2 separate regions of the Homo sapiens genome follow, and region 2 is linked to region 1. A link means that fine-mapping ties the variant in region 1 to the expression of a gene that starts in the linked region. Tissue or cell type: cerebellum. Region 1 holds a variant in brackets; the other region holds the start of a gene. All regions are shown on one strand. Distances are between the middles of the regions.

Evidence for each region. PIP is the estimated chance that this variant, and not a neighbour inherited with it, causes the effect.
Region 2: ZP1 starts here. The variant in region 1 is fine-mapped to the expression of ZP1 in cerebellum (GTEx, PIP above 0.99).

What each region holds. Positions count from the first base shown.
Region 1 is chr11:60,822,335-60,830,436 of GRCh38, reverse strand. All of the region lies in intron 2 of LOC105369322 (a long non-coding RNA gene), which reads left to right. Among named protein-coding and RNA genes, the nearest start is that of CCDC86, 16 kb to the left of the region's middle. The variant G/C (reference allele first, on the strand shown) is at 3,249.
Region 2 is chr11:60,863,755-60,871,856 of GRCh38, reverse strand. ZP1 (zona pellucida glycoprotein 1) reads right to left here and starts at 4,315. Exons shown (of 12, transcript NM_207341.4): 1 at 4,100-4,315; 2 at 2,591-2,712; 3 at 1,957-2,320; 4 at 1,382-1,525; 5 at 713-900; 6 at 543-640. The coding sequence starts at 4,295. RefSeq lists silencers at 7,363-7,580, 7,427-7,721.

The sequences.
Region 1 (8,102 bases):
ATCACTTTGGGAGGCCGAGGTGGGCGGATCACTTGAGTTCAGGAGTTTGAGACCAACCTGGCCAACATAGCAAAACCCCGTCTCTACTAAAAATAATTTAAAAAGCCAGGCGTGGTGGCACGAGCCTGTAATTCCAGCTCCTTGGGAGTCTGAGTTAGGAGAATCACCTGAACCCGGGAAGTGGAGGTTGCAGTGAGCCGAGATCACACCACGGCACTCTAGCCTGGGCGACAGAGGGAGTCTCCATCTCAAAAAAAAAAAAAAAAGTTATGTAAATGTGGTCGCTCCAAATACAGTGTACTCAACTTTTTTTTTTTTTTTTTTTTTTGAGACAGAATCTCGCTCTGTTGCCCAGGCTGGAGTGCAGTGGCGTGATCTCGGCTCACTGGGAGCCTCTGCCTCCCAGGTTCAAGCGATTCTCATGCCTCAACCTCCCAAGTAACTGGGATTACAGGCATATGCCACCACACCCGGCTAATTTTTGTGTTTTTAGTAAAGATGGTGTTTCGCCGTATTAGCCAGGCTGGTCTTGAATTCCTGACCTCAGGTGATCCACCTGCCTTGGCCTCCCAAAGTGCTGGGATTACAGGCATGAGCCACTGCGTCCGGCCAGCTATTTCTGGATTGTGGTGGACCACGGATAACTGAAATCACAGAAAGTGGAACCTCACGTCAGGGGGGACTCCTGAATACATTCAGATTGCTTACTACCTGTATACTTGTCTGCACTGAAAATTTTTCCGAGAATTGCTTGGGTACCTTGGGTTGGGATGGAATACATTTTTCCCATTTGCATTCATGAAAGTATATTTCTTTTTTAGACAAAGTCTCACTTTATCACCTAGGCTGGAATGCAGTGGCGCGATCTTGGCTCACTGCAACCTCTGCCTCCCAGGTTCAAGCAATTCACGTGCCTCAGCCTTCTGAGTAGCTGGAATTACAGGCGTGCGCCACCATGCCTGGCTAACTTGTGTATTTTTTGTAGAGACGAGGTTTTGCCATGTAGGCCAGGCTGGTCTCGAATTCCTGACTTTAAGTGATCTGCCTGCCTCGGTCTCCCAAAGTGCTGGGATTACAAGCGTGAGCCACTGTGCCTGGCCGCATTCATGAAAATATTTTTATTTAACAGCTTCTCACTTAGCAGCAGGGTTTCCAGTAACAAATCCATTAAGTGGGGGAACAGGTGGATACTTGTCCATCCACACATACAGACGTGAGACACCTAGGGTCCCTGCTGTGCACACACACGGACAAGATATGCAACTTTAGTCACTAAATCCTGGTGGATGTGACCCAAGCCACATGTCAACTTTTTGTTGACAGCAAAACAGCGACATTGAGGGATGTTTCTTAGACAGAAAGAGCAGACCCATCTCCATGCTGGGGTGTGTATGAGGATGGGGGTAGTGACCTCTGGGGCTGGGTGTTACAAAGGGAAGGCCAACCCTGCAGCCAGGAGAAGGGGAAGATCGCAGAGCCCCAGAGGTCAGATGCTGGGAGGAGCTCAGCTCCCAGGATCAGCAGATGCCTTGAGTGCAGGCTGTGGCTGGGGGCTGTGGGGCCTGGTGGGTGGATCCTGGGAGTGGCTGCTGTGGCCGTGGGAAGTTCCTGAGCTGGGTTCAGGTACTGGAGTCGGGAGAAGAAGGAAGGGCCAAGGCCACTCGCCTTTAGTCAGCCCAGAAGCAGCCCATGTGACCCTGTGATCCTTTTAGGTTTTCCTTCTGTGCTTTCTCTGGCGATCCAGGCTTTCCTCTCTGCCCACAGCCCTCCACAGACCACGTGGTGGTAGCCTGAGCCCCCAGACCTTGTGCTTTGGGCTGAGTCCTTCTTGTAGCTCTGGTCTTCCCTGAGGAGAAGGTTGCCCGGGAGTCGTACCTGGATTCTGGGGATGGATGTGATCTCAGCCAGGTCACCTTAGTTCTCTGGGCCTCAGTTTCCTCATCTGTGACACGTGGTCAGTCTCTTCCCTGCCCCTTCAGGCCTGTCATGAGGGTCGGGGGAAGGAGCTTGTGGAAGCCCCTTGATGGAGGGAGCTGCTGTAACCACCGTCTCCCAGCGCATGTAAGGCTATAGTTGTCAGCCAGGATCCAGAAGCCTCACCGCTGCCCTTCCTTCCTGCAGCATCGGCTGCCACCACCAGAATCTGGCGGCACCATGCGGCACTTGTCCTAGTCAGTTCTACCTTGGTGCTGAGCTATAAGCTTTTGTAAACATCTTCTTCCCTAGCCACCTCCCTGTTCTCACATGTCCTTCAAGACAGCATCTCCCCAGTGTAGACCAAGTGGGGCTCAGCACGGCCATGGTACAGATGGTTTAGGATGGCAGGAGGGGTTCTGCCTGCCACTCCCCACACAGCCCTCTTGTTGTCCCTCCTCCCTCGGCTCCCCTGTCCAGGCTCTGGGGATCGAGTGAGGGCCTGCCTGTCCTGCAGAGACCTTGCCAACCCACTCACCAGCTGGGTGTAGCAGAAGGTGGCATGGAAGCCCAGGAAGGTAGACAAGAAGGCGATGCCTAGTGCCAGGATGGTGAAGAACAGCAGCAGCACCGAGAGACTCTTCCAGGGCACCTGCAAAACCAGGGTGCAAAGCCTGCAAAAACTGGGCAGTTTTACAGGCCAGCCAGTCCCGGAATCAGTCTGCAGATTCTGACCAAGGAGATGGATAAAAGAAGGGAAGCTTTCTAGAAGGGGAGTGACCTGTCATCTAGTGAGCACCTGTTACGTGCTTATTTTAATCTTAGTTGCCTTATTAGATAGCTACTCTGATTAGCCCCATTTCACAGAGGATGAAACAGAGGTTCAGAAAAATTGAGGTACTTGTCCAAAGCCACACAGCTGGTATGTGAAAGCTGGGATTCAGACCCATCCAATTCCAAGACCCATGTGGTCAACCATTCAGACTGACACCCATCAGCAAAAAAGTACAGAAAGGTCAAGTAAGAAAATACATGGAAAAGCATGTATTTGGCAGTAAGCTACTGGCGGCTGCCCTGAGAGGGCTTGAGGTCTGTAGAGACGGGAGAGGAGGAGATGGAGTCCGTAGGAGATTGTTGCTGTGAAAGGGAAGAGAGGGGAGACCACAGTCAGAGAGGGACACGGGGTCTCCGGGACTTGAGTTTCTGGACCAGAGGAGAGGGAGAGGCATGGATGGAGGAGAGAGCAGCTAGGGAAGGTGAACACAGTGGACTAGGGTCGTGGGGGCCTAGGAGGAATGATTTGTCCTCTACTGATAAGGAAAGCACAGAGAGGG[G/C]CTGGGTGAAGATCAGTTTCACGTGAGGTCACGGGCAGGAAGTTGAGTCTTGGGGCCGTTCAGGGACCCCAGGCTACAGGGGAAGGTCGGGGATTCTGGGGCAGCTGGGTCACTGAAGTGGTCAAAGTGTGGGCAGCAGTGGGCAGTGTGTCCCTCGCCCCTGCATGGTGTGTCAGACCCACCTGAAGAGAGTGTTTCTCCTTTCCTCTCTTTCCCTAGGATGAGAGCAGAGGAAACTCCTCCCCCAGTATTCCCAGCCCCATTTTTGCCACGTCCAGGTCCCTGGTAGCAATCTCATGACATAATCACATGTCTTTGAAAAGATGTGACCTCAATGGCCACAGCCAGAAGGCAGGACTCACTGATAAATCTTAGGTATTATTATGCTGGCAGTCCTCCTAATGCACCCTTGACCTCTATGCTCTTACAGGGGAACGTCCTTGGTAGGAGGCAAGCAGCTGGAATATCTTCCTCCAAGCAAATGATTATTATTTTTTTTAAGAAACAGGGGCTCACTCTGTTACCCAGGCTGGAGTGCAGTGGCATGATTATAACTCACCGCAGCCTTGAACTCATGGGCTCAAGCAATCCTCCCACTTCAGCCTTCCAAGTAGCTGGGACTACAGGCCTGCACCAACATACCTGGCTAATTTTTTTCAAAAAAATATTTTTGGTTGAGAGTGGGCCTCACCATGTTTCTCAGGCTAGTCTCAAACTCCTGGGTTCAAGCGATCCTCCCGCCTTGGCCTCCTAAAGAGCCACCACATCAGCATTAACACAGGAAAAACTAGTCCAGAGGGAAGTACCTGGGGCTGTCAAATCCTGGTGGAGTTCTGCCTCAGGGAATCTGGAGGTAATTGCTAAACACTTAAACCCTACTCCCAAAAGCTGGGTGTCATGGTACCTGCCTGGAGTCCCAGCCACTCAGGAGGCTTAGGCAGGAGAATCGCTGGAGCCCAGGAGTTTGAGGACAGCATGAGCAAGTTAGCGAGGCTCTGTCTGTATTTAAAGAAAAAAAAAATCCCACTCCCCATTTTAACTTTGACAATAGAGGATAAGAAAATATCTCTTGGTGGTGGTTTCTAGGATTAAATGGTGCCCAAAGAGTGGATGCTTATTCTCTGGGCCTGAGACACTGATCTGGGTATAGTTGTTGCTGGCAGCCAGCTCAACCATGAAGGCACACACCCCGAGGCTGGCACACAGTGAGCTGACCAGGTTTGGCCCTGTGCTGACCTTCACCTGCTAAGGAGACCGGAGCCCGAGTTACTACCCAGCGGGAAGGGGAGAGTGCTGGCTCACATGCCCTCTGTGTTGCGGGCTTCCTTTGCACGCTTTTGATCCTGGAGGAACCACTGACTTGCCCTAGGAGCCAGGAACCAGTGACCAAGGTGACAGCATCTCTGCTCCACCTGCTGGAGCCCATGGGCCACAGAGGCTATGTCAGCCTTAATAGCCAGGAGATGGATTTGTTGCAGGAGCACAGACAGCAACATGTGTGGCCACTTCTTCCTGCAAAGTCCATGGCAGACAACATCCATCAATCCTCAGAACCCACCAGGGCCGCATCGATAGAAAAGCTATTTGCCATCTTTTGTGGGTTGAATTGTATCCCCCCAAAAGATATGTTGAAGTCTTAACCCTGGTACCTGTGAATGGGATCTATTTGGAAATAGGGTCTTTGCAGATGTAATCGAGTTAAGATGAGGTCATAATGGATTATGACTGGTGTCCTTAGAAGAAGGGAAGGGACACAGGGAGAACAGCCCCTGATGACAGAGGCAGAGACTGGCAGGATGTGTCTACGAGCCAAGGAACACCAAGAGTTGCCAGCAACCACTGGAAGCTGGGACGAGGCCAGAAAGCATTATCCCCAAGAGCCTTCAGAGAGAACTCGATCCTGCCAGCACCTTGACTTTGGGCTTCCAGCCTCCAGAATCATAGACTACAGGTTTCTGTTTTCTTTCTTTTTTTTTTTTTTCTTGAGATGGAGTCTCACTCTTGCCCAGGCACGATCTAAGCTTACTGCAACCTCTGCCTCCTGGGCTTAAGCAATTCTCCTGCCTCAGTCTCCCGAGTAGCTGGGATTACAGGCAACTGCCACCACGCCTGGCTAATTTTTGTATTTTTAGTAGAGGCGGGGTTTCATCATGTTGGCCAGGCTGGTCTCGAACTCCTGACCTCAAGTGATCCGCCTGCCTCGGCCTCCCAAAGTGCTGGGATTACAGGCATGAGCTACCAGGCCCGGCCATGTTTCTGTTGTTTTAAGCTACCTGGTGTGTGGTAATTGGTTACAGCAGCCCTAGGATTCTAGTTTCCTAGGTTCAAAACAGACGGCTCTGGTGGGGATGGAGTCCCCTTTCTGGAGGTCGAACCAGGAGGTCCAGCAAGTTTAATGCCATTTGGGTCTGCATGCAACCTATCCGATTAGGGGTGACTTGCTGAGGTCCAGGCTGTATTAAAGGCATGGAGGAGCTGTGGTAAAGGAGAGGAGACTAGAAACAGACTCAAATTAGATACAGGAAGCTTCTATAGGACAGGAGGATGGTCAGGAGCTCAGACCTGCCAGTGAGTAGGATTGCGGACAAAGGCCCACTCCCTACTCGCCCACCATCCTGTGGAAAGGCCCCACAAGCATCCACTTTCATATAAGGTCTTCCAGGATAAGCTGTGCCCAGAGGCAGAAGAAATGTCTATGAAACTCACCCGGGGAACTGTGCAGTTTGCTGAGATGACCAGGGTGGTTGCTCCTGAAACTAAGAACTGCACAGAGAGGCAGGGAGATTGATGGTCTCAGGGAGCCCAGAGGCACCTGCCTCCTGGAAACCCTAATGCAGGGAAGGTTTGCCATGAGCATTTATGGCTTGGCACAGTGGGCCATGTACCAAGTGTCATGCGCGTCCGTGTGAAGAGAGTCCATCAAACAGGCTTTGTGTGAGCAACAAGGCTGTTTATTTCACCCAGGTGCAGGTGGGCTGAGTCCGAAAAAGGAGTCAGTAAAGGGTGGTGGGATTATCATTAGTTCTTACAGGTTTGGGATAGGCGAACAAAGTACCTTCTTAAGGGTACTTTGAATATTACAAAGTACCTTCTTAAGGGTACTTTGAATATTACAAAGTACCTTCTTAAGGGTACTTTGAATATTACAAAGTACCTTCTTAAGGGTACTTTGAATATTACAAAGTACCTTCTTAAGGGTACTTTGAATATTACAAAGTGGTACTTTGAATATTACAAAGTACCTTCTTAAGGGCAGGGGAGAATATATTGTGTCAGTTAGGGTGGGGCAGGAACAAATCACAATGGTGGAATGTCATCAGTTAAGACTATTTTCACTTCTTTTGTGGATCTTCAGTTGCTTCAGGCCATCTGGATGTATACATGCAGGTCACAGGGAAAATGATGGCTTAGCTTGGGCTCAGAGGCCTGACAACAGGGAGTAATGGGGCTTATGGGAACAGAGAAAGGCATCTAGTCCTCCCCACTGGGCTCTGCATAGGTTGGTGAGATAGGATTTTAGAAGGGGGCCACTAAAGATTCCTAGGTACCTGCCGGGCATGGTGGCTCATGCCTGTAATCCCAGCACATTGGGAGGCCAAGGCAGGCAGATCACCTGAGGTCAGGAGTTTAAGACCAGCCTGGCCAACGTGGCGAAACCCTGTCTCTACTAAAAATACAAAAATTAGCCGGGAATGCCCGAAAGATTCCTAGGTAACTGGTCCAGTACTTTTCAAACTTGACAGAGGACATGAGCGCCTAGGGATCTTGTTAAGCTGCAGACTGACTCAGCCCGTGTACGGTGGGGCTTAAATTCTGCATTTATTTATTTATTTATTTATTTATTTTTATTTTTAATTTTTTTTTTGAGATGGAGTCTCCCTCTTGCTCTGTCGCCAGGCTGGAGTGCAGTGGCGCAATCTCGTCTCACTGCAACCTCTGCCTCCCAGGTTCAAGCGATTCTCCTGCCTCAGCCTCCTAAGTAGCTGAGACTACAGGTCTGTGTCACCATGCCCAGCTAATTTTTATATTTTTAGTAGAGATGGAGTTTCTCCATGTTGGCCAGGATGGTCTTGATCTCTTGACCTCGTGATCCTGCCCGCCTCGGCCTGCCAAAGTGCTGGGATTACAGGCGTGAGTCACCATGCCTGGCCTGCATTTTTTTTTTTAAGAGACAGGGTCTTGCTCTCTGGCCCAGGCTGGAATGCAGTGGCACCATCATAGCTCACTGCAGCCTCCAACTCCTGGGCTCAAGTGAACCTCCTGCCTCAGCCTCCTGAGTAGCTGGGACTACAGGTATGTACCACCATACCCAGCTAGTTTTCCTTTTTAATTTTTTTTTCCTTTTTTATATCTTGTTGCATATCAACATTTTTTATTTTTAGTAGAGACAAGGTCGTGCTATGTTGCTCAGGTGTTCTCAAACTCCTTGCCTCAAGAGATCCTCCCCTCAGCCTCCCAAAGCTCTGGGATTGCAGGCTTGAGCCACTGGAGCTGGCCTGAGACTCTGCATTTCTAACAAGCTCCCAGGTGATGCCAAAGATGCTGGTCTCTGGCCCATGCTTGGAGGTGGGAGGGACTAGTCTCTCATTTTGAAGATGGAGAAACTAAGACTGAGAGAAGGAGGCAACCTGCCTAAGTCACAGGGCTGCTAAGTGATAGATCTGGATCTAGAAATCAAGTCCCAGGGGCTTTTGTTTCATTGTAGTGGCTGAGCGCCTTGACTTGAGTGTTACCCTCGGGGTAAGTCCCCAGGGACACCACCTTTCTCCTTCCTCGGCTGCATATATTGGGGCAGAGGCCCTTTGCCACGACTCCCCCCACCACACGCTGTGAACCAGCTTCAGCTCTTTAGCT
Region 2 (8,102 bases), 41 kb before region 1:
GGCATCCTGGGCACCTGGGTTGGTTTTGCCTCTTGAGTCAGCAGGTCCAGGAGGCCCCTAACAATGAGGGGTTCCTCCCCCACCCAGTTCCTCTCCCACCACATCCTCAGAGAGGTATCTTCAGCTTCATCTGTGGCTTCTTAACCTGACATTAGGAGGGGCAACAGCCGTAGCCTCAGCCTCCTCCTGGGACCTGGAAGGGGACACTTTCAGTTGCTTTGAGCTTGGTTCTTGGAGAGACCAAGACAGGGCTCTCTCAGGACTCCAGCTCTCTCAGGACTGGCCCTGGGCTTCTAGCCAAGCCCTGCAGGCCAGGCATGGAAGGGCTCCACTTAACACTCATGTCTGCCCTGAGAGAGGGACATTTCCCCTGCCCAGCAGGGGAGGCTGGGAAGAGGTGGGCCCCTTGCCTAAGATCACATAGCCGGGTAACAGCAGAGCCTGGGTTTGAGCTGAGATGGCTCCGAAGCCTGTACTGAGCTCGCCTGTGCCCCTGACACCCTAGCACACAGCCACGCCTGTAGGAGGAGGGCTGCCCTTACTGGAAGGTGCTGTCCCGCGTGATGGAACCCTGTGGCCCCTTTTGGATGTGGATGCCAGACACCAGCCAGTTCTCATAGATGAGCTGGTCGCCAGCCACCTGTAGGAAGAGACAGCTGGGTGAGGCTTTCTGGTGGGGGACCAGGCCCCAGCCTGTGGTCCCGGCTCCTACCTGCATTGTGGTTCCACAGTGGGTGAGAGGGAAGTAGAAGACCACGAAAGCTTCCGTGTGCTGTGTTGGGGAGCAGCTGGTGGGGGCATAGGCCAGGTGGATGTTGGCCAGTGTGATCCTGTGTGTCAAGGCCATTTCTTGGGACACCACGAGGACGAAGTAGCCATCTCTGAAGCACTGGACAGTAGCTGGGACAAAGGCAGATGAGGGCCTTGGGGTTTGGTGTCCATCCAGCACAGAGACGGGATGGCTGGGTGACAGCCAGGCTTTAAGTGCCGGTCTAGGAGAATGGACGCTTACTCTCCACTTAGGCTGGTGTTGGCCCCAGCAAACCCTTTATGGACTGATTTTCTCATCCATGTGACAAATGAGTTGAACTACACTCTAAAAGTAGGTTCACCATATAATCTGTCATCCAAACCAGGGCGTTTCAGATCTGAAAGTCCAGATGTGTGTAAGGTAGATCTATTAATAGTTCCCTGGGACAGTTGTTATAAGGCCAGCTGGGACATGTGACCGCCCCATCTAAAGGTCTCCTCTGCCATCTGCTCTGGGAGTTGGGCTCTCCAGGAGGAGGATAGGAAGCAGTTTCCACCAGCTGGAGGAGACAGCTCTCCTTCCGCTTCAGAATCCAAGGGACCAGGATCTTGCTGGGGTGGGAGGTTGTACCTGTGTTGCCATAGTAACAGGGAACCTCTCTGGTGTTGTCATAGCAGCAGCCAGCCTGCTGACAGGCTTCTTTTGAAGTTCTTCTCACGATGCAGGGGAGGTGCCCTGAGGCCACCTGGCACTGCTCCTGGCTCAGGTGGGTACCTAGGGTTGGGACAGAGTGATGAGGCTGAAGGCACACAGTTTGCAAATCATGGCCCTGGAATTGAATCTTGGGAACCTGCTCCAGAGCTTGTGCTCTTAGCCAGCACAGTAAATGTCCTCCCTCAAAACTGAATATTACTGAAATTTCTAGAGAATATTTTCTGAGAATCAGGTGTTGCTGGCAATGGTTTCAATGAGTTTCTGCCTAAAGTTAGGAAACAAATTTACAAGACCTCTTCTAGCTTTAGTACACCTATACATGTTTAAAGCTGTTTTCCAAATACTACAAAGGAATAAAAGAATCATCTTTTTCTAAAAAAAGAAAAAAACAAAAAAAGAAATGGCTTAGAGCCCAGTAAAAGGCTGTTAGGCCACCCTGTACTCCAGAAGTCCCCAGACAGAGGGTAAGTACACTCAGATGTCCTGCGTACCTATGTAATCTCGTTTGTTCACATCCCAGTGTTCCAAGGTGCCCCAGTGGGGTTGAGCCAGGGTGGCGAGGGTAGGTCCAGGTCCAGGGGATGGTAAAGCAGGGGTTGGGTGGACAGAGCTGTGCCCTGGGTCCAGTGGGCTGGGAAAGGCATGGCCAGAGCCTTGGGAGGTATGGCCAGAGGTGGGGAGGAAGGAAAGGGTTTGTGGGGTTGAGACAGAGAACATGGCGGGTGGTGCCAGCTGGGAGTCCAGAGTCCGGGAGGGGTCAGGTTTGGGACAGATCAGAGTAGCGTCTTGTGCCACATCCACACGACCATTGGGCAGCACAGCCTCCATGAACACCCTCAGGTGGAAACGCCCATCCTGCAGGTGAGAGGCCATCATAGAGCAGCAAGGTGAGGCCACCTAGCATACCCAGGCAGGGGACGGGCCCACGAGAGCTGAGCTGGCCATTAGGCAGGGAGCTGGATTCATGGTGGATTCCAGAAAGTACCTTCCAGAGCTTAGTTTCCCTCACCCACCAGCTCAACAGATCTTCGGCTTTGGCTCCTTTCTGGTTCATGAGGGGCCTCTTCAGCCTGACATGACACTAGGACAAGCTTGCCCCTGTGCCAGAGCATGAACAACCCCTACCTTCTCCAGCACGTGGCAGCCTCTGTAATCGGCCGAGAAGACTGCAGGCTCCTGCGGCCTGGAGGTGACCCAGTGGTAGCAGATGGAGCAGTTGTTGACATCAAATCGGTTCCCAAATTCATCTGCAGTGGGGGAAGGGGAGGGGCCAGGGATGTTGAAGGGTGCAGGGAGAGGTTGCTGGGGTCTCGGAAGGAGTTCCCACTCAGCAGCCAGGAGACCTGGGTTCTTGCCTTAGCTTTGCTATTAGTTTGTTGTGTGGTCTTGGGCAAGCCCCCTCCCCTCTCTGCTCTCAGTTTCCACAGCTGTAAGGGGATGGGAGGGTCTTAGGATCTTTCTAGCTAGGGTTCCCTGCTCACAGCACACGGCAGCAGGCAGGCACGAAGATGAGGTGGAGAAGGGATACACAGGGTCTCAGGCACTGGCCTGAGTATTTCACATCACTTCTTTTAAGCTTAGTTATCCACATCCTGTGGCTGAGGCAGCTGAGGAAGGGAGGGTGCGTGAGCTTTCTTAGGTGCACACAATGAGGGGCAGAATGAGGATTTGAATCCTGGGCTTTGTAGAAAGATCTGAACCCATTTCCCAGGTTAACTGTGGCTGCTGCAGTTGCTTGGAGACACCCCCTAGGTGTCCACCCTGCTTGTTGCCCCAGAACAGCCTGGGCATTCCCTGGGTGTGGGCATGTCCCCATGCCCTTGTTCCATGAGCACGGCCAGGTTCATCTTCCCCACCTTGCAGATGAGGAAACAGAGGCTTATGAGTCAGGTCAGTTGTCCAAAATCATCCCGTTTAGAAGCTGCAGATCCAAACCCCAGTTCTAAACCCACACCAGGCCACGCCTACTAGGTCCTGCTGCTGGAAGTGGTTTATGGACCCTCAGCCTCAGTTTTGACTGAGCGTGGTTAGAGATGCAGAGCCTAGGCTGGGTGCAGTGGCTCACGCCTATAACCCCAGCACTTTGGGAGGCTGAGGCAGGTGGATCACCTGAGGTCAGGAGTTCGAGACCAGCCTGACCAATATCGTGAAACTCCATCTCTACTAAAAATACAAAAAGTAGCTGGGCGTGGTGGCACACACCTGTAGTCCCAGCTACTAAGAGGCTGAGGCAGGAGAATTGCTTGAACCTGGGTGGTGGAGGTTGCAGTGAGCTGAGATCGTGCCAACTGCACTCAAGCCTGGAGAACAGATTGAAAGAAGTGAGACTGTCTCAGAAAAAAAAAAAAAAAAGAAAAGAAATGCAGAGGCTTGGCCCTGCCCCAGGTCCACTGAATCAGAACCTGCACCTCAACAAGGTGGCCAGGTGTTTCCCATGCACACTAACGTGGGAGAAGCTGCCCTGGGTGATGATTCTCCTCCTTGCCCTTTTCTGTGGTGAGGGGGTGGGGGGCTGGACACCCCCAGGCTGGAGGGAGGCCTCTGTTCTTGCTCCTTCAGGGGAAGGGTCCCAGCTCCCTTCTGGCAGCAGCCCGTGGCCAGGGAGGCAGGGGCCAGGACTCTGCCAGCACTCACCCACCACCTTGAAGCGGAGAGTCTGGCCTGGCCTGGGGAACACCAGCAGCTGCATTCCCTTGATCCCACAGTCGTAGCTGTGCCGGAGGCCTGGGAGGCCAGGGTCGGGCTGGAGCCACCTACCCAGCCCCAGGGTGGCAACCAGCAGTAGCAGGGCCACAGGGTAACCCCAGGTCGTGGCTGAGCCTCCTGCCATGAGACGCCACAGACACACCCCCTACTCCCTCGCCACCAGAGCTGGGCCCAGGCCTTTTATGGAGGAGGTGGCAAGTGGGTGCCTGTAAGGGCAAAGGGGGCCCACCTGGAGGAGCACCCACCTGGCCACCAGGGGCTGTGGTGAAACTCCTGTTCCAAAGGCAGCGGGAGGCAGAAAGCTGCACGTGGCCCCTCACCCTGGCTTTCTGTCTCACAGCTGTGGCTTTGGAAGGGAGGAGGGAGCTTTCCAGAAAACTGAGGTTGCAGATGGGCTGTGGGAAGGGATCCAGGGCTAGGAGGTGGCACTGCAGACCTCAGGCCCTCCACTGTCTCCCTCTCACCCCAGCCTTTCTGCATTCCCTTCCTGCCCCAACAGGCTCTCCAGGTCCTCCTTCCTGCCTTGAGGCCTCAGGACCACTGGGAGCTGCCGGCCTGGTTAGTACAGTCACAGCTCCTCAGGCAGGGCTTTAGGGGCATTAGAGCAAGACCAGGAAGACACAGCCCTCAGAGCTGGCAGCGGAATGGGGACTGCAGGTGAGTAAACAGACCAGTAGCACCTCCAAGGGCTCTCCTGAGGATTCAGCCGGTCAGTATGATGATGACTATGACTAATAAAAAATAACAAGGACAACTAAATGTAATGTGGCATCTGGATGGGATCGTGGAACAGAAAAAGGCAGTAAAAGTGAAGAAAGTGGATTTTAGTTAATAATAATGTGTCCACATTTGTTTGTTCATTAATTGTAATAAATGTATCATACTCAAGTAAGATCAGTTATGGGGTAAACTGGGCCTGCGGTGTATGGGAACTGTCTGTACTATCTTCTCAGTTCTGTAAATCTAGAACAGTTCTAAGACATAAAAGTGGCTGGAAACAACAAGAATGGCCTGTGGTCTGCCATGATTACAGTGCCAGGTCTTGCTTGTGTTAGATCCTTATACCGCCTGACCATCCTCTGAGGAAGGGACTGTCACCAGCCCCACGTCCTGGCACTAATTCCTGCAAGTGATTAGCCTAGGGCCCAGCAGCGTTTGAGCTCAGCAAACATTAGAAAATGCAGCTATTATAATTAGCAGCTGCTGGAAGGGGAGAGCAAGAGGCTTGATAGCTAAGAGCCCGGTTCTGGTGAGGTTGCAGAGAAAAAGGAATGCTTATACGCTCTTGGTGGGGGTGTAAATTGGTTTGACCACTGTGGGAGTGTGGTGATTCCTCAAAGAGCTGAAAACAGAACTATCATTTGATGCAGAAATCGCATTACTGGGTATATATCCAAAGGAATATAAATTGTTCTATCATAAAGACACTGAACCTGCGTGCATATGTTCAGTGCAGCATGATTCACAATAGCCAAGACATGGAATCAAATGCCCATCAATGGTAGACTCAATAAAGAAAATCTGGTACATGCTGAGCACGGTGGCTCACGCCTGTAATCCCAGCACTTTGGGAGGCCGAGGCGGGCGGATCACGAGGTCAGGAGATCGAGACCATCCTGGCTAACATGGTGAAACCCTGTCTCTACTAAAAATACAAAAATTAGCTGGGTGTGGTGGCACGCACCTGTAGTCCCAGCTACTCAGGAGGCTGAGGCAGGAGAATCGCTTGAACCCAGGAGACGGAGGTTGCAGTGAGCCGAGATTGTGCTGTTGCACTCCAGCCTGGCCGACAGAGTGAGACTCTGTCTCAAAAAAAAAAAAAAAAAAAGAAAAAGAAAAAAAAAAAAGGAAAATGTGGTACACATACACCATGGAATACTATGCAGCCATAAAAAAGAATGAGATCACATCTCTTGCAAGAACATGGATGGAGCTGGAGGATATTATCCTTAGCAAACAAATGCAGGAACAGAAACCAATACCACATGTTCTCACTTATAACTGAAGGCTAAATGATGACAACATATGGACACATAGAGGGGAATGGCACACACTGGGGCCTATTGAAGGGTAGAGGGTAAGAGGAAGGAGAAGGGTGGAAATAATAACTATTGGGTGCTAGGCTTAGTATCTGGGTGATGAAATAATCTGTACAACAATCCCTCTGGACATGCATTTACCTATATAACAAACCTGCATAAGTAACCCTGAACCTAAAATAAAAGTTTAAACAAAAAAAGTTGGTTCTAATGGTGCCCCAACCACTTTCTTAGCTGTGACTCAGATGCATTATCTATTCTGAGCCTCAGGTTTCCTGTTTGTAAACTGGGGGTGATAATGCTTTCCTTGCCCACATGGTGGATAGGAAGACACAAAGAGACAAGTCATGGGTACCAGGTGCAGTAATGATTTAATGCTTGGCAATAATTCACTTCTACTGTGATTAAAGCTCAGCTGGGAAAGCTTGGTGGGGCGGGGTGGGAGTCCCTCTGGGGGCACAGTGGGAAGAGGCACCCAACACAGCATCGAGGATGGGCGACATGGAAGTGTTTTTGGAGGAAAGGGGTCCTGAGCAGAGGTGGGAGGAGGCGGGGAGGACAGGGATGGTGCAATGGGGATCTGGGGAGAGCAGAGCTGGAGGAGGAGGGAGGAAGCAGGTCACACAAAGGTCCAGGACAAGGACTCCAGGCAGGCTGAGGGTGCTGGCGAGGGAAGGACTAGGAGGGGAAGGAGAGGAGCCAGGCAGGAGCGGGGAGTGGGGTGGATTTTCCCTGAGGGACGATGTGGAAGTTTTAAACTTTTAATTTTGAAATTATTTCAGATTTGCAGAATTTCCATATAGCCTCCTCCAGATTCCTCAGATGTTCACTGTTCACTTTTTACATTTGCTGTAGCTCCCGCTTTCTCTCTCTGCATGTGTGCAGACATACACGCACGCACACGCACACACGCACACATTCTTCCATATCATTCAAGAGTCAGTTGCAGAAATGACAGATTCCCCTTTACCTCTAATTGCTTCAGTATACATTTCCTAAAAAAACAAATCACCCCTACAGTCAAATGATCAAAATCAGGAAACCAACAATGGTATAAACACAACGATCTAATCTGCAGACATTATTGTAAGAAATAAAGAGGAAAGCAACATGAAAGGGCGGTTCAACAGGCAACAGGGACAGGTTTATGTTGAGTAAACCTGAGAGGGGCGGCTGGCCGAGTTAGGTCAGAGCCCCACTCTCTTACAGATTAAGAGTTAAGGATTCAGGGCGGGGGAGTTTATCAGAGGCTTGGACTGCTCCTGTGTCTCTTTGCTGTGCGTATCTGGGAGGGAGAGTTGTGTGTCTGTTCCCATATATCTTTCTGCAGCTACAGGCATATCCCCAGAGTCTGCTTTTAGCTTCCCTATCTTAGTGCCCCTGAAGGAAAAGGAATGTGCTTATTAAGGCCCACTGTTTTACTGGGGCTCATTGTGTGAGGGTGAAGTTTGGCAGTTACCAAAGAGACCTTCCCTCCACCCCGCTCTGTGCCGGAGCTGTCTTATCTGTATTTTACTGTCTGCTCTTTCTGGCTGTTGTAGTTAGAAGAGAAGTGATTTCCTTGAAATGCATGAGGCTAGAAAGGGAGCTGGAGCTTAAAGTGGCAGTATTTGTCCGAGATGACGGTGCTCCTGCTCTGACAATTACTCAACATCTGCCGACTGTCCTAACTGTGACTTTCATGGCAAAGGAGTACAGTGGTTTTGGGAGTCTGCAGGATCCAATCCAGGCTCAGAGTCTCGCTGGCGTGCCTCTTGGCCTCCTCTGATCTGGGACCGCCCTTCTATCTTCTTTTGTCTTTCATACCCTTGACATTTTTTAGTACAGCCGGATGATTTTGCAGAATGGCCCTCAGTTTGGGTTTGTCTGGTGTTTTCTCCTGGTTACATTAG